3 linked regions of the Homo sapiens genome follow. The protein of the gene in region 1 purifies or fractionates together with the protein of each later gene. This does not show direct contact. Each region holds a gene or a part of one and is shown in the gene's direction. Other genes may lie near its edges.

Region 1 (7,026 bases):
CTGGAATGTGAGAGAGAAGTAAGAACAGAACTTTGTGGCATGGAGAAGGAGGTTGGAGAAGCAGGAGCTAGAAGAGGACTGAATCAGACCTCAAGCCTCCAACAAGGTGCAGCACAGAAAGGGTATACATGGCCATTGTGCAACTTTTCCGATGGCACAACACCTGGGGAAAGGATTGTGGCTGCAGCTAGAAGGACTTAGGTTAGATCTCAGGAAGCACATCCTAGAAAAGGAAAGACATTTGAAATGGAGACTGGGAAGGAAAGAGAGACCACTTTCTGGACCAAAAAAACCAACCAAAACAAAACAAAAACCACCAACAAAATCCCCAAACACAGAAGCCCATCCTTAAAGCTTCCGAGAGGAGTGATGGAGCTCAGAGTGCAGGGATTATTGTGACAACTGTCAGGGGCCTCCCCTGGGTGGCTGCTGCACCTCTCTCTTGCTGTTCCAGGGCTACTTTCCGCTCTGAGAGACAGCAGGCACTATGGTTAAGAGCATGGCCTTGGAGTCTGACTTTGTGGGATTCGGTCCTGGTTTACCACTTAGTAGCTAAGGAAGTCCCATCCTCACAATAGGGCTCATAACTGCTGTGAGGATGCACAGTGACTACCGTAAGGGGCTTGGAATGGTCCTTAGTCTGTAAAAAGTGGAGTTGTGGGCCATTGCTTTTCTCCCACCACTCTAATGTTTTCTACTGTGTCATCTTTCCTTGTTCCTGGGCTTTGTCCCAGCCCTTCTTTGTGGGTTTTGCTTTGTTTTGTTTTGAGATTCTGTCCTAGGTTTTTTCTTCCCACCCTTCTGGAGTTTGGGAAGGTAGAAGAATTATCAAGCAGTTTAAGATGCATTTCCTTCCTTGATTCCAATAGGCTGGGCATCACTTGAGGTGGGGTCTCCACACCCACAGCCCCTGCTTTCCACAAGTTTTTGCCAAGCAGATGTCCTGTCTTCAGATTCAATAAATGAGAACTGAGTGGTTGAGCTTTCACCAAATAGTCTCTTTCCCCATTCTCAGCAACTTCTCTTTCAGCCAAAGACTTCTGTCAGAGACTTCTTCTGTCGGTCAAGACAACCCCCACATCTCATTCCTGCTCCCATGGTCCTGCCTATCGCTCTTGTATTCTTCATCCTGCCTCTCCCTCTCCCGGCCCAGGTTTGCCCCCACAACTTCTCTCAGGTTTATATGCCCTTCTCTTCTTGTGTCTCCTGATTGGCTTGTTCATCCCATCAGCCTGGATGCCCACAGCAGCCTCCTTAATGACCTCCCTGACTCCAGCCCCCTCTCTCCTCGACTCCTTCCCTGTTACCCTATAATGAAATTATCACTGGAATTGTCATCATGAAGCATCAGTTTTATCTTGCCCTTTCTCTACCCAGACACATCTGTTGGCATTGGATAAAAATTTCCCAATCACAGGCTTCAAGAGACTTTATGCCTTTCTCCCATCCCCTCCAGCCCCATATCTTGTGGAACTGCACTCTTCAGACCCTGATCCTGGGGAGCATATCCCAGGCAGTCTCTGAGCCATGCTCCTCCCCACACTCTGGACCCTCACAAAGGCCATTCCAAGTCTCACCCCTCCCGCAGATCTCTATTCTCCTGTTTCCCTCTCTGCTCTGCCATCTTGCTTGTTACTTGCATCTGCAACTTGGCCCAGGGTTCTCCATGCATGGCGATGTTGGAGGAGACTTGTCTCCCTCATTAGCCGGGGGTTTCCTCTAGGGTGAGGCCTGTACCTCCGTCAGATTGGCAAAGGCATCTCTTCTCTCTCTGGACCCTCTGGCACCCAGCAAAGGGCCTGCCTCCTAAGACACAGAGTAGCTACTGTCCAGTTTGACTCTAGGTAGGAAACATTTCTGATCGCTTATTCTTGGGGAAGGAGCCTGACTTTGGAGGTTTATGTGAGCATCCTGCAGCAGGGTGTGTATAGGATCCTATTATCTAATTCTATAGGAGATCTCAAGAGAAACCCCTCTCCTACTAACGACCCCATCCTGTAGACATGGCTTCACCCTAAGATTACAAGCCCTAGAACCCCCAATTTATAGTCTTCTAAGCATTGTTGCTCCACCCACCCCCCCAACACAAATGCAGGTATGTAGGCCCCAGAGAGCCTTTCTCCCCTCACCAGGGCAGTCTGACTCCAGCCTGAGGCCGGGCTTGTCAGCAGCATCGTCTGGAATGAAAAAGGGGGATAAAGGTCAGAGTCTAGTCTGAGGCAGCCCCATTGTCCTGAGCATACCTCTGAGCAGGGGCTTGCAAGGTGGCAGACATGTGAGGTCACCTCCCAAGTGGGGTATAGGTCTGACCTCTTAGCACTGCATTCTCCCTGGACCAGCCTCCTCAGCTCCACTTCTGATCCCAGTTCCAACTGGTAGAGCCAGGCACACTCCTTCTCCACGTGTCTAAACCTCCCGGTTGACCCTGTGATAAAAAAGATATAGGCAACTGGTAAGAGGAGAGGGTGAGTGTATTAGAGTCTAGAGCACTGGTTTTTAAACTTTTTGACCTCAGGACCACTTTACATTCTAAAAAGTTACTGAAGACTCCAAAGAGCTTTGGTTTGTGTGGGTTCTATCTATGAACATTTACTGTGTTAGAAATGAACACTGGGACACATGAAATAATTATTAATTTTTGCATGTTAACAAAATGACGTATTTTTAATGAAAAACAGCTGTATTAAAGTAAACAAAAAGTTAATAAGAAGAGTGACATTGTCTTATATTTTCACAAGTCTTTTTAAACATCTGGCTTAATCAAAGACAGTTGCTTTCTCATCTGCTTCTGCATTTAGTGTGTTGCAATATCATAGGTCATGTACCTTCTGGAAAACTCTACTGAACACTGTGAAATAATGAAAGTGAAAAGGGCAAATAATGTATTGTTAGCATTATTATGAAGATAGGTTTGACTTTGTAGAGCCTCCGAAAGGGTCTCAGGAACCCTCCGAAAGGGTCCAGGGACCATACTTTGAGAACTGCTAGTCTAGAGGAACCTTAGAAGACAGTTTCAAAAACCTGGGCCAATTTGAATATCCTCGTTGATTTCCTTCAGCTGCCATGGTCTTTTGAATGTTCTCACCAGGGAGGTAGTATGGGGTAGTGGTTCATCATGTTAAGTTCTGCCTCTGTTCTACTACTCACTAGCTATGTGGCCATGGGCAAATTATTAATATCTCTGTGCTTCAGTTTTCTCATCTATAAAATGGGACTTTAAAAAGCACCCACCTTTAGAGTTGTTGAGAATTAAATGACATAATAGGAAAGGGCTCAGCGTAGAGCTCAATGATGTGAGCTCTCATTAAATTCCGGAGCCTTGCCCCTGAATCCACTGCGCATTGTCCCGAAGGCAGGGAGCTGCAGAGGAGATCCATCCAATGCTACACATAGGAGCTCGGCCCAGAGAGGGAAAGTGACCTGTGCAAGTTCCCAGAGAGAGTTGACAGGGTTGTTGGGCCCCGAACCCAGGAGTTCTAAGGCCTAGCTCCATCTCTGCTCTCCCCGCCAGAATTTTTTTGTGGAGAGTGGAGGAGCAAGGTCCTAAGACGGGGAAAGAAGCAGACTTTACCTTTCTTTTCCCCAGCAATCTCAGGTGAGCCCAGGGCCAGGGCAGTACAGTGGGAAGCCTTGAGGGCAGACAGCAGGGAGAACTTCCGATACTGACAGCAACTGAAAAGAGGAGAAAGAAAGCTAGGAAGACATTTTCAAGCCCAGAGATTGTTCTGTCTTGCCGTGTGGGGAGCAGTTCTGCAAAGTGTCCCCGGCCTTCTCTTCCTGGGGCTCGTAGGAAGTCTGTGATTGGGCAACCCTGCTTCTCATGAGGTGCTCAGTCCCGCTCACTGCCCTCCTCTCAGCTCTCCCACCACCCAAGGCCCAGGAGCCCCTCCCCAGATCATGCCTTCTGGCCCTGCCCTTTGTGCTGAGGCACCACAAGGCACAACATGGTGCCTTGGAAAAGCCAGTTGGTGGTGCTGAGGGCATTAATGAGGATAGGGGTGCCTGCTGGGGTTCCCTGGGCAGGAGAAGGGAAGCTTCTCCTCACAGATTGTAGAACAGGAGGAGGCAGATGGGGAGTTAGACATATACTGGGAAGAGCTAGTCCTGGCTCATTGGCCCTTCAGTCAAATTCCCCTGAGCTGGGCTTCCAGCTCCACCTTCACTAGTTCAGGTTGAATTCCCTGGAAGAGCACAGGTGGCAGGCGACTCTTGTCCCTAACCCCTGCTTCCCCTGTAGTAGCTTCTTCAGCCTCCAGAACCAGAGCAGGTGGAGATCTCAAAGAAGGTGGCACCCCAAGGAAGTAGAACCCCAAAGACCCCAAACCCTGAGCACATGCCCTTCCTGCTGGGGTTGGGGAACTTGCTATGTATTACTCTGTTTTTCTTCTCCTGCCCACAAAATTCCTTTGCATAGATGGTAAAACTGAGGCAAAACGTGGGAGGACTTAGACTGCCCACCCACTTCTTTCTAGAGCCCAGCCTGGGACCAAGGGGCTTGGCATCCCGCAGCCCCTCCCGCTCCACTCCTACCAGTCCCCGTGGCTTTTTCCATTTGGAAAGTCCTTTCTGGCGAGTGGCAGGTTTGGAGGCCCTAGTCTAGTCTCCTCCCCTGTCTCCTGGGCAGTGCCCCCAGGGGAGCCCCTGTGGGCCAAGATCTCCTTAGTCTCAGTCCTGGGCCCCCCTCACCCTCTACCAGCAGTCCCCCAGCTCCCGCCCCTCGGCTGTGGGACAGGGAGAGGGCTGAGGGGCTGGCTCTGCATACTAATGTCCTGCCCATTGTCAAAGCCCCTTTGTGCCAGGGAGCTCCATTGAGGCGGCTCCGGGGCAGGCACAATGGGGGCTCTGTCCCCTAGTTCCCCCAAACAGTCACCTGCTTTCAGAGCCTTCCCCACCACCCCCCCTTCGCCCCAGTGTCCGGAGGGCCCAGAGAGCACGGGGGAGTGGGCCCTGGGCCAGGGGGGATGGGCAGGAGGTGACTCCCCCACTCTCTGGGCAGGCTGGGGAGATGGGCATTTGACAGGGCAGGCTGCAGAGGGCACACAGAGGGGAGAGGCCCTAGGCTCACAGGGGCAGGGGCAGTCTGTGGAGGAGTTGGAATGCAGGTTCTCTGAGGCCTGAGAAGGGGAAGGGGCACTCAGAGCCTGCCCACTTCTCGGTTCCGTATGCCCAGCCTGGACCTGTGGCTGCCACCTCTCCTCCTCCCACTACAGGACTCCCCGGGGCTCATATATGCAGAGACACACAGGCATACACTCATCTATGCGGCCCCACACACGGCTCCCAACACACACCCAAACGGATGTGCCCAGACACAACACACTGACCCCAGCACACAGATCGCACGTCCACAACACCACCTCCTGGCATATGCACCTGCACACCCACCCTCCCTCCACCCCACCCCCCTTTCCCTTTTGCACCCCCTCCACGGCCGCAGGCATCTCAGCACCATGTCCCTCCCCCCCATGCCCTTGCTGCCCTCTGCTGCTCTGACACTGGTTATAACAAGTTTGCACTTGTTGTGACCTTAAGAATGTGGCCCTGGGGCTAAGAATGTCCCGCTGCCCCAGACTGCACCTGCTTATACGTTAACCATGGACACAGCCTCTTGCTGCACTCTAAGCAATGCTCCCATTCCTGCCTCAACCATGGAAGCAGTTAGGTGGGCCAGGCCCCCCACCCCAGAGCTGAGTCAAGTACCCTGGACTGAGCTCTATGTGAATAACTAAAGCCCCACCTGGCCTCGCTGGCACAGGTCCAGTGTGTCCGTCTTTGCATTTGCCCAGGGCACATAGATATTTCCTAGCCCTTCCTGGCCCTGGGAGGTAGATGGAACAGTTATCATTTTCCCAGCAAGGCTCTGAGAGGTAAGATGATGGTGTCCAGGCAGCTGGTGGCAAGTCTGGGACTAGAATGGAGGTCTCTCACCGCTAGTTTTTTTGTGTTTTTCCCCCAACTATTTGTCTCTTGGTTTCACTCAGATGACCCCACCCCCAACCCTATCTACAATTCCAACAGAGCTGTCTTTTAGCCACCTTTTTTTGGGAAGGAGTGGGGGCATGGTGAGGGGAAGGGGTGGGGAGAAGAACGGGTCTAGGAGCCTTAAGTGGGCTTCTGGGTCTAGAAAGAACCTCCGAAGGTCACTTTGACCCTTGCACTACCCCTAGGCAGAGTGAGCCTACCTCCTTTCACTTCCCACCCTCCTACCGGCCCCACTCCTGCTACGAACTCTGGATCACTGGAAAGTAACCCCACAGCCTTCTTAGCTAGGGTTTGGAGTTGGGGATCTCTATCAATTATAAGTCCTTCATGCTGCCTAGTACTGGCCTTTCCAGTTATTATCCTACGTCTGCACGAGGATCTGTAGGCTGTATCTACGGCTCACCTGCTATTCTGGTCCAGAGCATCTTCTAGCAGTTGGGAGCAGATGCCCTAAAAAGGGAAGAGAGGAAGGCCCATTGGGATCCCAGAGACTTGAGGGCTGACTGCACAGTGGTGTGCTGGGGCCTGGGAGGGTGGATGGGGTCACAGTTGCAGAAACTCTGTTAGATAGAGAACTAAGCTGATATTGGTTTGCTCATCAGCAAATATTATTGAGTGCTAATCTCCATGATGTTTCCTCCCATCAAAATTGCATGGGAGAACCTCAGGGCCCTTCTACTCCTTCTCCTTTCCCCTCATCTAAAATGCTTCCCCTCTGGCTACTGGATTCTCCTTAAGCCGCCTCATCCATCTGTCTTCCTTCATGCAGGAACACACCTCCCCCAGCCCTTATACTCTGGTGTGATTCTTTTGCTCCAAATGTTCCCTACTGGAGAAAGAGAACTGCTCAATGTATGTAACTTCAGCTTTCCCTGCTGTGCTCGGGCAGTTAGTTACTATAGGAGACAGAGGACAGTGAGACACTCACCTCTGAATCTAGTTCTGTATCTAGTAAGTGTCCTCATGCCATCCCTACCCCATCCTCCTTCTTAAGGGAGGAATGTGGATAAGGAATAAGTAAAAAGTTGAGAGGGGGCAGAGAGA
Region 2 (7,026 bases), on another chromosome or scaffold:
TTCAGGTGTTCTGTTAGTCCATTTGGAATACCTGAGACTGAGTAATTTATAAGAAAAGAGTTTTAATTGGCTCATGGTATTGCAGGGTGTACAGGAAGTGTGGTGTTGGTATCTGTTTCTGGTGAGGGCCTCAAGAAGCTTAGAATCATACTGAAAGGGGGAGCAGGTATGTCACATGGCGAGAGTTGGGAGTGAGAGAGAGAGAGACGGGAGGAGGTCCCAGACTCTTTTAAACAACCATATCTCAGGTGAACTAACTGAGTGAGAACTCACTTATCATCAAGAGGATGATGCCAAATCATTCATGAGGGATTCATCTCCACGATCCAGTCACCTCCCACCAGACCTCACCTCTAACATTGGAAATCACATTTCAGCGTGAGATTTGGAGGGAACAAACATCCAAGCCATATCAGGTATTGTTGAGTTAAGGGTTTTGGTTTTTTGGTGTATCTTATTCCTTCAAAGCAGGAATGTGTCATTATCCAGAATAACCATAACTTGTTTTTTAAAAGTGTTCTCTGCAGAGAATACCTATTGAGTGTCTTCATGTTTGTTAGCTGAGGTTTTGGTGAAAAGGAAGGAAAGGATTTATGTTCTTATGAACTAAGCTCTCCAGTGGTCATGGTGTTCTTATTGTTTTATGCATTGTAATTGTTTTTAATAGTCTTTTATTTGAGGCACCTGGGTTCTTCAGTTCCCCAGAGGAGAGATAAATCATTCTTTAATTATGAAACTATCTGAGGCATACTTGTTGCATCACTTAAAGGCAGGTTTTTTTGTTTTTGTTTTTGTTTTTTTTTTAAGTTTAAAGGAAAATAAAACTCTATTGTGATCCTGAAGTCAGCAGTAGAACTTAGTTTGGTGTGTATGTCCCCCAGAGCTATCAATACATTTAGATGTTGAGGATGGAAACAGGTCAGGTAAACTTGTTCATGGTTCTAAGGTAGAAGTTAGAATATTACAATAAGTCTTTTTGCAGTGATGAAAATATTTCATATCTGTCCCAGCTACTCAGGAGGCTGAGGCAGGAGAATCACTTGAACCCAGGAGGCAGAGGTTGCAGTGAGCCGAGATTGCACCACTGCACTCCAGCCTGGGCGACAGAGGGAGACGCTGTCTCAAAAAAAAAAAAAAAAAAAAAAAAAAAAAAATATATATATATATATATATATATATATATATATATATATATATATAATATCTGTGGCTATTTCAATGTGCATGAATTAAAATTCAAAATTTGGTGGCTACCATGTTGAATGGTAAGAATAATAGGGAGTCAATGACAAACAGCCTTGATGTTTTTTAGTTTTCTATTGTGGTTTTATGTCAAAATGTTAACATTTTGTCTGCCTGTGGCTTTCTTTTTCTTACAGTGGTTGTGTTTTTAGTGTCCAGATAGTCGATTAGTCAGATAGTTGATTATTCATGTCGTGATTCAGTCTAAACAGTATAACCAAAGGTGCACAATCTGAGTGACCTCTCAGGAGCATGTCCCACTCAAGGGCTGAAGAGAAATTGGATCACATGGTCACTAGATTTGGTTGGAACATAAACTCACTTAATTTGTTTTCGTTTAAGCCTCTTGAGTCTGTAACCACATAGCCTGCTTTTAGTTCTTCTGCACTGGAATCTAAAATGACAGGCTAATTATCTCTTTGCAGCCTGTTTACTGAGGGGGAAATCCTCTGAGGCCTGTTCTAAAGAACCCTGACCTGATATTCAAATGCTTTTGAAAAAAACCTGCTTTTTGGTTCTCCTTGTAGGGAAAGTACGAAGTACACAGTAAGTTTGAATCCCTAGCATGATCAGAATGTCTGAAACCAGACCCTTTGGTAATGTAGAAAGAAAATGCACATTTAAAAAGTTGTCAAATATAAAATAAGTTATTTTAAGGAAGTTCCTTTTTTCTCTCTCACCTTTGCTTTAGTGGCCATCAATGATAAATTAAGTTATTGTTAAGCTTCCATTTTTCCTCCTCCGTTCATTGTTTCCGAGATTTCGGCCACTGAGGAACCATGGTAATGACTTTGCCACACTGGAGAATACCGTTACAGTATTAGTTATTTACTATTTTTTCTTGACATTGACATTTAATTGACATTTTGATTGACACTTAAAAGTTTCATTCTAAATAATACCTACGATATTACTAGTTTGATATATCCATTTTTCTTAATATATACTAGAATACATATTTTTAAAAATAAAAAACATTTCCCCACATACCATCTAAATTTGCAAAGTCTGGCCTGATTTCTCTGATCTCTTCTAGGAATACTTTCAGAATTGGCTTATATTTGGCTAATATAATAAAAGCTATACTATAGGAAAATTGGCTTTTTCTTCTGCATAGTGGCTTAAATTTCACTGAAGAACTTCAGGAAACCTAAAAGGCTGTGCTCATAATTCTCTCTCACTGAAACAGCGCTGCATCTCCCACACTTTATACTTCTGGAAATAAAGTTATGTTTTTCTTTCTCCTTTTCTTACTTCCTGCCTCTCTGAATCCAATTATAAGTTGTTTTACCAGTAGTTCTTATGTAATTTAGGGCATTCTTTAAAATTAAAAATAATTTAGGGCATTCCTTTAAAGTTAAAAATCAAAAGCTCAACTCCTTATGGGATGGAAAGAAAAAAAATCAAAAGCATATTTTTTTCCAGTATACATTAAGTTGTTAAAATGCTATGAGAAGTGGTGCTTACCATGTGAAAAATGCTCAACCTAAATCATAATAAGGGAATTGGAAATCCTAACTACACTTGGTAGTTTGCTAACTCACTTTGTTGGTCGGTGTGCAGAAGCAGACACTCTCATGCTTTGCTAATGAGATTGTAAATTGGTACAGATTCTGTGGAGGGCAACTTGTCAATATCCATCAGAATTACAATATATGCCCCTTTGACTCATTCTTTCCAGGAATTATAGATTTATTTATTCTCCTGTTTAATGACATAGATACAAGGTTATTATGGCATTGTTTGTAATGGTAATACATTATGGAATATTCACCCAATGAAATACTAATCAGCTGTAGAAAAGAATGAAGAAGCTTTTCATGTGCAGTTATGGAAAGGTCTTTGAGATATAAGTGGAAAGAACAAAGTACACAGTAGTATGTCCAGCATGCTCCCCCCGACCTTTTTTTTTTTCTGAGACAGAGTCTCGCACTGTTGCCCAGGCTGGAGTGCAATGGCGTGATCTTAGCTCACTGCAACCTCCGCCTCCCGGGTTCAAGCGATTCTCCTGCATCAGCCTCTCAAGTAGCTGGGATTACAGGCACGCACCACCACGCCTAAGCATGCCCATTTTTTGTGTAAAAAAGTGAAAAAGTATACACACACACACACACACACACACTTTTTTTTATATGCATAAAACATCTTTGGAAGACTACACAAAACCAAATAACATTGATTGCTTTTGGAGGTAGGGACTGACATGGGAGGAAATTTTTCACTGTATACTTATATGCTTTTTGAATTTTGAATAATGTGGATAAATTATTCAGAAATAGTTAATAAAAATAGTCTTTAAAATATATAAATATATGTGTACATAGATAGACACACACACAAACTTGGCATGAGACTTCACTATGTCTATATCCTAAATAAGAGCCTTTCTATAGGTCTGTATTCTGTTTCTGCTCATCAGGAACTGACATTTTCTAGACCTTTTTCTCTCAGTGAATTTTTTTATAAAAGGTTATAAGTCTCCTTAGAGATTAATTTTGTTATTCTTTAAATCCACTACTGTCTTTCATTATTTTTGTGCTAGTTTCATTTCTGTCTAAAAATTTAACCTTTTTGAAGTCTTCATTACGATCCAAAGGACAGGATAAGCCAAAGGGGGATAGACATAGTAGATAAACTGATATTATTAATCAATGACAGAGAGAGGGCAGAATTTTTTTTTTTTTTTTTTTTTTGAAACGGAGTCTCGCTCTGTCGCCTTGACTGGAGTGCAGTGGTGTGATCTCGGCTCACTGCAACCTCCGCCTTCTGGGTTCAAGCGATTCTCCTGCCTCAGCCTCCCGAGTAGCTGGGATTACAGGCATGTGCCACCACGCCCGGCTAATTTTTGTATTTTTAGTAGAGATGGGGTTTCACCATGCTGGCCAGGTTGGTCTCGAACTCCTGACCTTGTGATCTGCCCGCCTCGGCCCTCCCGCCTCCGCCTCCCTTACAGGCATGAGCCACCGTGCCTGGCAGAGGGCAGAACTATTTTTGTTTCTATTTTATTCACTAAGGTATATTCAGATTGATATGGGTAAATAGGCAATATGGATTTCTGTTTTCAGTAATAGCAGACTAGGTAATTATCTCTCATCAGGGACAATTAGAAAATATGGGTGAAATATAAACATCTGCTGGAAGATACTGGAGAGATAGAAAGATCATGAAGAATTACCTAGCTGTGATCCATGTGAGAGCTATAGAGATCCAAGGACAAGAGTCTATTTTGGGGCTCTTTTGTCTCCTGAGGGTACATGCTGGATTCCTGAGTGGGGAAGCTGAGTGACAAGGTCATGAAAAGTGCCTCTTTGAACTAAAGTAACAGGAAATGGATTAGTGTTCAGGACCCGTCAAGGGGGAGCCTGGTGAACTCCATTTCCTTTGGGTTAGGGCCATGAAAGGCCATGCCCTAAAAGTAGGTCATTGCAGGGAGTGCAACTCAGCTTCAGAAACAGCTAAGTTCATGAATTGGGATTTTTGGGTGGCTTTGACAAGCTGGTTCTAAAATACATATAGAAATAGAAGGCCACAAATAGCAAAGACACTCTTGAATAAGACAACAGGGAAAGATTTGTTCCATCCAACATCAAGACTTATTTTAAAGTTTTTAAAGAGTAGTCAGGCTCTAGGAATAGAATCAAAAGCTTAGAAACATGTTTATACGGACACTTGCTTTGCAACAAAGATTGTTAACATAGAGCAGTGGGTAAGGTAAGGTAAATGTTTCTGGGACAATTGAATATTCTAAGAGAAAGGAAAGTAAAGAAACGTAATCTTTACCTCACACATCATACACAAAAAATCAACTCGGTAGATTATAGAACAGTATGTGAAAGGTAGTACATAAGCACCTACCTATAGGATATGGGAGAATATTTTCGGATCTCAATATAGTGAAAGACATCTTAGACAGGACATACAAAGACTAAGGAAGGCAAATTTGATAAATTTTGAGTACACAAAAGTACTTTGGTTCATCAAAGGCCACCATTAAATGGGAAAAGTCATGTCACAGAGTGGAAGCAGGTAATTATAATACATATACCTGACAAAAGGTTTGTATCTAAAACTCCTATAAATAATAAAAAGGGACTGGGCTTGGTGGCTCATGCCTGTAATCCCAGCACTTTGGGAGGCCAAGGTGGGCGGATCATGAGGTCAGGAGTTCGAGAACAGCCTGGCCAATATGGTGAAACCCTGTCTCTACTAAAATACAAAAATTAGCTGGGTGTGGTGGCACGTGCCTGTAGTCCCAGCTACTAGGGAGGCTGAGGCCGAAGAATCTCTTGAACCCAGGAGGCGGAGGTTGCAGTGAGCCGAGACCATGCCACTGCACTCCAACTTGGGTGACAGAGTGAGACTCCGTCTCAAAAATAAATAAATAAATAAATAAATAATAAAAAGGACAATCCAGTAATAAAATTGGCAAGAGACTTGGAGAGGCACTTCACAAAAGAAGATTTTTAAATGGCCAAGAAATACGAGTCATTGGTGAAATACAAACTAAATTAGCATACATCTACCAGAATGGCCCCCCAAAAAAATTTTAACATGACCAAGTGTCAGAGAAGGTCCAGAGTAATGAAATGATGCTACAATGCTGGTAGCATTATATTTGGTACAACCCCTTTAGAAAATAGTTCGGCATTATCTACTGAAATTTAACATTCAAATTTCTATGACTTAACCGTTTCCATTCTGACATTTATATCCAACATAAATGTATGCACTGTAGCCAAGACACAAGAATATTCATAGCAGCATTATTCATAATAGCCCCAAACTGGAGTTAACCTAAGTATCATCAACAATAGATAGATAGCTCATGGTGGATTCATGGAATAACGTACAGCAATGACAGTGAACAAACTGGCTGGGTGCGGTGGCCCATGCCTGTAATCCCAGTACTCTGGGAGGCTGAGGAAGGCGGATCACCTGAGCTCAGGATTTTGAGACCAACCTGGCCAACATGGTGAAACCCCGTCTCTACTAAAAATACAAAAATTAGTTGGGCGTGGTGGTGGGCGCCTGTAGTCCCAGCTGCTCAGGAGGCTGAGGCAGGAGAATCGCTTGAAGCGAGGAGGTGGAGGTTGCAGTGAGCCGAGATTGCACCATTGCACTCCAGCCTGGGCAACAAGAGTGAGATTCTGTCTCAGAAAAAAAAAAAAAGAAAGAAAGTTAACAAACCTACCTACAATTACATGGGTGCATTTTTTGATGCAGATTTTGATGGATGCATCAATCAAAATAATGACTGAAATAAGCAAGACCCAAAAGAAAACATTCTTTTTCATTTTCCTTTATATGGAATTCAGAAAACAGGCCCAGTGAAGCAACAGTGTTTAGGAATGCTTACTTAGGTGGCCCAGCTATAAAGAAAGCAAGGAAATAATGTCCATAGTTGGGATAGTGGTTTTCTTACCTTAAGGAGGAAAGGATCAGGTAATGATTGGGAAGGTCATGAGTGGTGCTTCTGGAGTGTTAGAAGTGTTCTATTTCTTGGCCTGGGTGGTGTTTGTGATAATTTATTGAGGTATACACTTTTGTGTACTCTTCTACATTTGCGTTATATTTCACAATAGAAAAGATTTAAAAAGTTTTTTTTTTTTTTTTTTTTTTTTTTTAGACAGAGTCTTGCTCTGTCACCCAGGCTGGAGTGCAGTGGTGTGATCTCGGCTCACTGCAACCTCTGCCTCCCAGGTTCAAGCGATTCTCCTGCCCCAGCCTCCCAAGTAGCTGGGATTAGACACACACCACCATGCCTGGCTAATTTTGTATTTTTAG
Region 3 (7,026 bases), on another chromosome or scaffold:
AGCTGAGACTTCTTTCTTGATTAACACAGGGGGAGCACCTGGGGACCACGGAAGCGACCGAGGCCTTCTTTGCCATGACCAAGCTCTTTCAGTCCAATGATGTAAGTGCCTCAACCCAGCTTTCCTTGAGAGGTGGCAGCTGTAACAAGGTGGTGGGAGGGCCAAAGAGAGCTGGCCCCACCAGTCAGTGTGGGCTGCCTTTGTGGAGACAGGAGGTATCTTCTCCCAACTCTGGCCCTTGGTGAGCCCGGGCTGATAGGGCTTTTCCCACCTATCTCCCAGCCCACACTCCGTCGGATGTGCTACTTGACCATCAAGGAGATGTCTTGCATTGCAGAGGATGTCATCATTGTCACCAGCAGGCAAGTCATGGGGTTGTGGGTGGCTCTTCTGATGGGTTCCATTGACAGACCATTTTTTTCTTGTGTGTACCAGACAGTGAGACTTGGTTGCATATTGCCAGCTGCCCACCCCGTGGCAGCTTCCCTGTTACCACTGCCCACCCCATGGCAGCCTCCAGGTGTGCTGTTTCTATTTTAATTCTCTGACCTTGACTTGGACACAAATGCTTCCTTTTCTTGATTTCTCTTAGTCAACCAAACCAGCTTAGAACTTTCCCAAAGACTTTCTTGAGTATAAAGAGAGAACACAAGAAAAATAAACAAGAGAGTACAAGCGGTATACTGCTTACTAAGTGACTGGTGTCTGCTTTAAGCTAAGCAATTCAGGGACAGATGTGACTAAAGTGTAATCACTGCCCTTAAGAACTGGGGCTCAGTTCTCTTATTTCTTCCTGCCACAGTTTAAGGTTGTGGGGGTCATACATTGATTTGTAGGTTCAGTTAGAAAATATTGTCTGTCAGTCCCTGTGTGTAGCTCTGGGGATATAGCAACAAAAAAGATAGACATGGCCTCTGTAGCCCCAGAATTTACAGAGAAATAACCAGGCATCAGGCCATTAAGGTAGGGTGTAATATAGTTTATCACGGAAGTATTATGGGCTATGAGAGCAGACCAGAAGAGCATCCAGCTTGATTAGAATTACGAAAGTCCTCCCAGAGGAATGATCTAAGTGGAGTCCTGAAGGATGAGTAAGAAATAGTAGGACAGGACAGGCGCAGTGGCTCATGCCTGTAATCCCAGCACTGTATCCACAATGTAATCCACAGACTGCGATGGGTGGATCACTTGAGGTCAGGAGTTTGAGACCATCCTGGCCAACATGGTGAAACCCCGTTTCTACTAAAAATACAAAAATTAGCCAGGTGTGGTGGCGCACACCTATAATCCCAGCTACTGGGGAGGCTGAGGCAGGAGAATTGCTTGAACTGGGGAGGTGGAGGTTGCAGTGAGCTGAGATCATGCCACTTACACTCCAGCCTGGGTGACAGAACGAGACTGCGTCTCAAAAAAAAAAAAAAAAAGCCAGGAGTGATGGCTCATGCCTGTAATCCCAGCAGTTTGGGAGGCCGAGGCGGGTGGATCACAAGGTCGGGAGTTCAAGACCAGCCTGGCCAACATAGTGAAACCCCCTCTCTACTAAAAATACAAAAATTAGCCGGGTATGGTGGCATGTGCCTGTAGTCCCAGCTGCTGGGGAGGCTGAGGCAGTAGAGCTTGAGCTCGGGATGTAGAGGTTGCAATGAGCCAAGATCGCACCCCATTGCGCTCCAGCCTGGGCGACAAAGCGAGACTCTGTCTCAAAAAAAAAAAGAGTAGGACAGAGTGGAGGTGAGGGGTGAGGAATGCTACAGGCTGAGGAAACAGCACATGCAAAGGCTGGAGAGGAGTGAGCATAGCCAGTTAGGGAAGTTCAAGGAGTTACATTCAGGTCACTGGCAGTAGGAAGCTATGGAAACTTTTTAGCAAAAGCAGGGGGATGACCTGTTTGGTTTTGAGTCTTATGAAACTCCCTCCAGCAGCTGTGTGGAGTTAGGCTTGGAGGGGCAGGAATAGAGGGAGAGCACTGGTTAGGAGGCTCGTGTAGTAATCTGGGCAAGGGTGGTGTTGGGAGCTGGAGAGGAGTAAACAGGCCCAGGCTCTCTGCATGCTGACAATGCCTTCTTCCCTGCAGCCTAACAAAAGACATGACTGGGAAAGAAGACAACTACCGGGGCCCGGCCGTGCGAGCCCTCTGCCAGATCACTGATGTGAGTCGTGCCGGTTCCTCCCTGCTTCCTGGCCTCTTGATTGAGGCCTCGGCATCATCTTTTGCATTCTTTGGGGTGTCCCCTATCACTGAGCCAGGTGATGTGGGGTGGAGGCAGTGTGCAGGAGCACATGAGAAACGCTTACTTCCTCCTCATACTCATCTCTGCCCCCATTCCTGCACTCCTGAGAGCTGCCAAGGACTGACTGGATCTCCTTCCACCCTGCTCCTTTTGCCCACAGAGCACCATGCTGCAGGCTATTGAGCGCTACATGAAACAAGCCATTGTGGACAAGGTGCCCAGTGTCTCCAGCTCTGCCCTCGTGTCTTCCTTGGTGTGTAGTTGCTGCTGGAGCCCTGCTGGGGGTGGGGTAGAAAATTGAAGAAAATTTAAGAGTCACATTCCAGTAGGAAAAAAGAAAGTGTTTCTTTCTTTCTTTTTTTTTTTTTGATTGAGACGGAGTCTCACTCTGTCACCCAGGCTAGAGTGCAGCGCCACGATCTCGGCTCACTGCAACCTCTGCCGCCGGGGTTCAAGTGATTTTCTTGCCTCAGCCTCTTGAGTAGCTGGGATTACAGGCGTCTGCCACTGTGCCCAGCTAATTTTTGTGTTTTTAGTAGAGACAGGGTTTCATCATCTTGGCCAGGCTGGTCTTGAACTACAGACCTCATGATCTACCCGCCTCGGCCTCCCAAAGTGCTGGGATTGCAGGCGTGAGCCACTGTGCCTGGCCTCTCTTTCTTCTTTTTTTTTTTTTGAGACAGAGTCTCACTCTGTTGCCCAGGCTGGAGTGCAATGGCTCGATTTCAGCTCACTGCAACCTCTGCCTCCCTGGCTCAAGCGATTCACATGCCTCAGCCACCTGAGTAGCTGAGATTGCAGGTGTGCACCACCACGCCCAACTGATTTTTGTATTTTTGGTAGAGACGTAGTTTCACCATGTTGGTCAGGCTGGTCTTGAGCTCCTGACTTCAAGTGATCCACCCGCCTCGGCCTCCCAAAGTGCTGGGATTACAAAGCGTGAGCCACCGCACCTGGCCAAAATAAAGTATTTCTGTATCTGTAAGCCTGAGAGTCCCACCCTTCTCAGTGAAGACAGCCAAGAAACTCTGGGGTGATTGAAGAGAGTCGTGGGTGGATGGTGTTGACCCATGCCTTGGGGAGGGACATTGAGGGTGGGAGCATCCTGAGTTTGTCCATGGTCTCTGAGGACCAGGACAGTGGCGAGCCCCTGAGCTGTGTCTGAGGGAAGACCAGAACTGGGCCCAGAATGTGTGATGGGGACACTTCCTACCTGCCCCTTAATGTGTCCTGTTGCCCACAGCACCTGCTGAAGTGCAGCTTTGACGTGGTCAAGCGCTGGGTGAATGAGGCTCAGGAGGCAGCATCCAGTGATAACATCATGGTCCAGGTGAGATGTGAGCAAGGGAGTGATATTTAAAACACTCAGGCAGGTGGTAAGGCACTGGCCAGTTGGCATGGACACTTGCCACCGAGATCCTTGTGACCCCTGGCCATAGCAGGCTTTAATCCTTTCGTCATTGGATCATGGGAGGAATTAGGAGGTCCTGGGTTAGAGAATCCAGGGTACCACTTGGGGCGCTTGGGTTACAGACTGCTTACCAGCTGGTGCTGAAATATTCAAGTATTTTGATAACCAGCTGAGTATTGTTTTGGAGCATATGATGTGGCAAACTTGGCCAAGGCAGGCAGAGGGCCGCCTAAATTTAGGCCTTTGCCAGCCTGGCTTTGTTATGATGTGTGGAATTATCTTGATGAGGCTTTCATCCACTTTACTCTTCCTCAGTGACCTAGGACAGCCGTTCCTTTTATCTCTCTGGCTCTTGGTTTCCTTGTCTGTAAAATACGAATGAAGGTTACTGCCTCACAAAGCAGCAAGGACGAGCTGAGATCATGCATGTAACATGTGACCCATCTGGGTCATGAGTGCCTATCGGCGCTCCCTGTGTGTTTATGTATTCCCTTTATCTCTCATCTGTCTTCTCATCCTTTGCACGATTCTTGTCTTCAGGGCCAGCTGTGGCCCCTCAAAACACTTATGAGGGCCAGATAAGCTTCCCACATAGAAGGCTTCCACAGCTGCCATATCTTTGCCCCCAAATGTCGCTCCTTTAGGAAACAAAAGAGAGTATCGAGGACAGGAAATAACTATGAGACCTCACATCTTTAGAAAGGGAGTCTCTGGGCTTCTGGCCCTCCAGGCCTAGCTTTGTCAGTACCAGCCAGGAGTCTTTGGGCAAGTCAGCAAAGATTAAACTGTCTACCTTCAGGGTTGTTGTGGGTAATGCAAGATTTCATGGCTAAGGTGTCCCACACAGTGACTTACAAAACATGACAATGCTCAGGGTCTGGCTCCCACCTTCTCTCTCTCATTGTCTGATTGAAAGCACCAGGTCTCCCACATTGCTTTCATCTTTGTGCTGTTTGTTGTCCCTTTCCATATCTGTATTTATGCTACCTGTTAGGGCTCTTGCCGAAGCAGGGGTGGGAACAAGAACCACAGATATACTTCTGTGGTTTGTGAAGCATTGTGTGGAGGGCTGTGTACACAGAGTACCTGGGGCAGTTGTCACAGCCACTCTGTGTGGTAGCTGCTACTGTGCCCATCTTAGAAATGAGAAGGCTGAAGGACCCACCCAGGGCCACACAGCCAGTATACCCAAAAGTCATACATTTGTACTCTGTTGCTGTCTCCTGTCCTATAGTACCACGCACTAGGGCTCCTGTACCATGTGCGTAAGAATGACCGCCTAGCCGTCAATAAGATGATCAGCAAGGTCACACGGCATGGCCTTAAGTCTCCCTTTGCCTACTGCATGATGATCCGGGTGGCCAGCAAGCAGCTGGAAGAGGAGGATGGCAGGTAACGGCTCTCATCTCTCACCAGCTAGATGATGCCTCACTCATCCTACCATGCTGGGCCACCCCCAACGTTTTCTTGCCACCCTATGTTCTTTTGTAGCCGTGACAGCCCACTGTTTGACTTCATCGAGAGCTGCTTGCGCAACAAGCACGAGATGGTGGTGTATGAAGCCGCCTCGGCCATCGTCAATCTGCCAGGCTGCAGTGCCAAAGAGCTGGCCCCGGCTGTGTCAGGTCACTGGGCATTCCTTCACCCAGCCTCACATGTTTATGCTTGCTGGGAACTAGGCCTGGGTTCCCGGGCTAGGAGAAAGAAAGAAAATGCTCTTAACAAGTGTTAAGGAGTCTGTACCTAGGAAGCACCTGCCCCAGACACTATGCTGAGTCCCCACTTGTATCACGTTTTGGTGGTGGGCTGCTGTTAGTTCCATCTGACTGCTGAAGAGGCTGAGGTAAGGCTCGGGTCCACTCTGGAGCCTGTCAGGTTGGCTGGCCACAGGAGGAGGCCTGGTGGAGGAACCCAGGATCTGTGAAACTGGTGCATGTGAAGTGGGGCTGCACTTTTCCAGGTGAAGGAGAGAACAGTATAGAGGGTCGTTCTGAGCCTCCAGCTCCAGCACTGGAGCAGGGCAGCCTGGGTTAGAGCCCTGGCTCTGCCCCTTACCAACTGGGCAAGCCTGGCAAGGCCGCCCATCCTCTCCATGCCTTCCTTTTCTTTTCTCAGATGTGGATGATAGATCATGCCTATTACATAGGGTTATATAGCCAGAAAATGTGTGATCTAGACAAATTGCTTAGAAGGCAACATGTTTGTTGTTTGCCGTTTGCTGTTTTTTGTTTTTGCTTTTTGAGACGGAGTCTCACTATGTCGCCCAGGCTGGAGTGCAGTGGTGCGATCTCAGCTCACTGCAACCTCTGCCTCCCAGGTTCAAGCGATTCTCCTGCCTGAGCCTCCCGAGTAGCTGGGACTACAGGCGCCCACCACCACGCCTGGCTAATTTTTGTATTTTTAGTTGAGATGGGGTTTCACCATATTGGCCAGGCTGTTCTCGAACTCCTGACCTCATGATCCGCCCGCCTCGGCCTCCCAAAGTGCTGGGATTACAGGCGTGAGCCACTGCGCCCAGCCGTTGTTTGCTGTTATTAAGGGGAATCCAGCAGCCTTGAGTCCTGGAGTCTTTGGTGTCTCCTCTGTGCAGGGCCCTGCTCTGGGTGTGGGAATACCCTGTCAGGGAGGAGAAAGCCTATGAAGAGGTGCAAAGTGGTTGGTACTGGAAAGTGGATATGTTGAGAGGCTAGAAAAGGAGAGGTGCTTAGGGTGAGAAACCTGGATTCAAAGTGGAAGAGAAGAGGGGAGTGTTTTAGAACAGGCCCATGGAAAGCAAAGATGTTGTGGCAGGAGAGTTAGATTTGCAGGTTTTGAGAAATGATTGGGCCTCTTGTTTTTCTATTATTCTCTACTATAACAGTGTAAACTTGGTCAGGCAAACAGATGGAGTTCATGTTTGGAGAGAGAAGTCTCCTTTCCTCCTTAGAAATGAAGAAAGAATGAACTGCTGGGCACGGTGGCTCACGCCTGTAATCCCAGCGCTTTGGGAGGCCGAGGCAGGGGGATCACCAGGTCAGGAGTCCGAGGCCAGCCTGACCAACATGGTGAAACCCCATCTCTACTAAAAATACAAAAATTAGCCGGGCGTGGTGGTGCGCATCTGTAATCGCAGCTACTCATGAGGCTGAGGCAGGAGAATCACTTGAACCTGGGAGGTGGAGGTTGCAGTGAGCCGAGATCGCGCCACTGCCCTCCAGCCTGGGCGACAGAGGGAGACTCTATCTCAAAAAAAAAAAAAAAAAAAAGAAATGGAAAAAGAACTAATGAATTCAGTCACTGATTTGGGTATTCATTCATTCTTATTATATCCCCCATATTTCCAGAATAATGAAAGATGTAAATAAAGTAGGGTCTTCAAAATAAGCATTAAGAAAAATTTTTTTT

What was found. The genes of interacting proteins can lie anywhere in the genome.
Region 2: the proteins of KCNJ10 (region 1) and TMED8 purify together in Homo sapiens (affinity purification with mass spectrometry; 3 studies listed by BioGRID and IntAct, with this or other methods). This does not show direct contact.
Region 3: the proteins of KCNJ10 (region 1) and COPG1 purify together in Homo sapiens (affinity purification with mass spectrometry; 3 studies listed by BioGRID and IntAct, with this or other methods). This does not show direct contact.

The regions. Positions count from the first base shown.
Region 1 is NC_000001.11:160,060,135-160,067,160, reverse strand, and holds part of KCNJ10 (ATP-sensitive inward rectifier potassium channel 10), read left to right. Parts: intron 1-7,026. UniProt on the Homo sapiens protein: May be responsible for potassium buffering action of glial cells in the brain. Inward rectifier potassium channels are characterized by a greater tendency to allow potassium to flow into the cell rather than out of it.
Region 2 is NC_000014.9:77,367,081-77,374,106, reverse strand, and holds part of TMED8 (protein TMED8), read left to right. Parts: intron 1-197; exon of another isoform or gene 198-416; intron 417-7,026.
Region 3 is NC_000003.12:129,252,594-129,259,619, forward strand, and holds part of COPG1 (coatomer subunit gamma-1), read left to right. Parts: intron 1-29; coding exon 30-101; intron 102-282; coding exon 283-362; intron 363-2,074; coding exon 2,075-2,150; intron 2,151-2,391; coding exon 2,392-2,484; intron 2,485-3,474; coding exon 3,475-3,561; intron 3,562-4,876; coding exon 4,877-5,034; intron 5,035-5,133; coding exon 5,134-5,267; intron 5,268-7,026. UniProt on the Homo sapiens protein: The coatomer is a cytosolic protein complex that binds to dilysine motifs and reversibly associates with Golgi non-clathrin-coated vesicles, which further mediate biosynthetic protein transport from the ER, via the Golgi up to the trans Golgi network.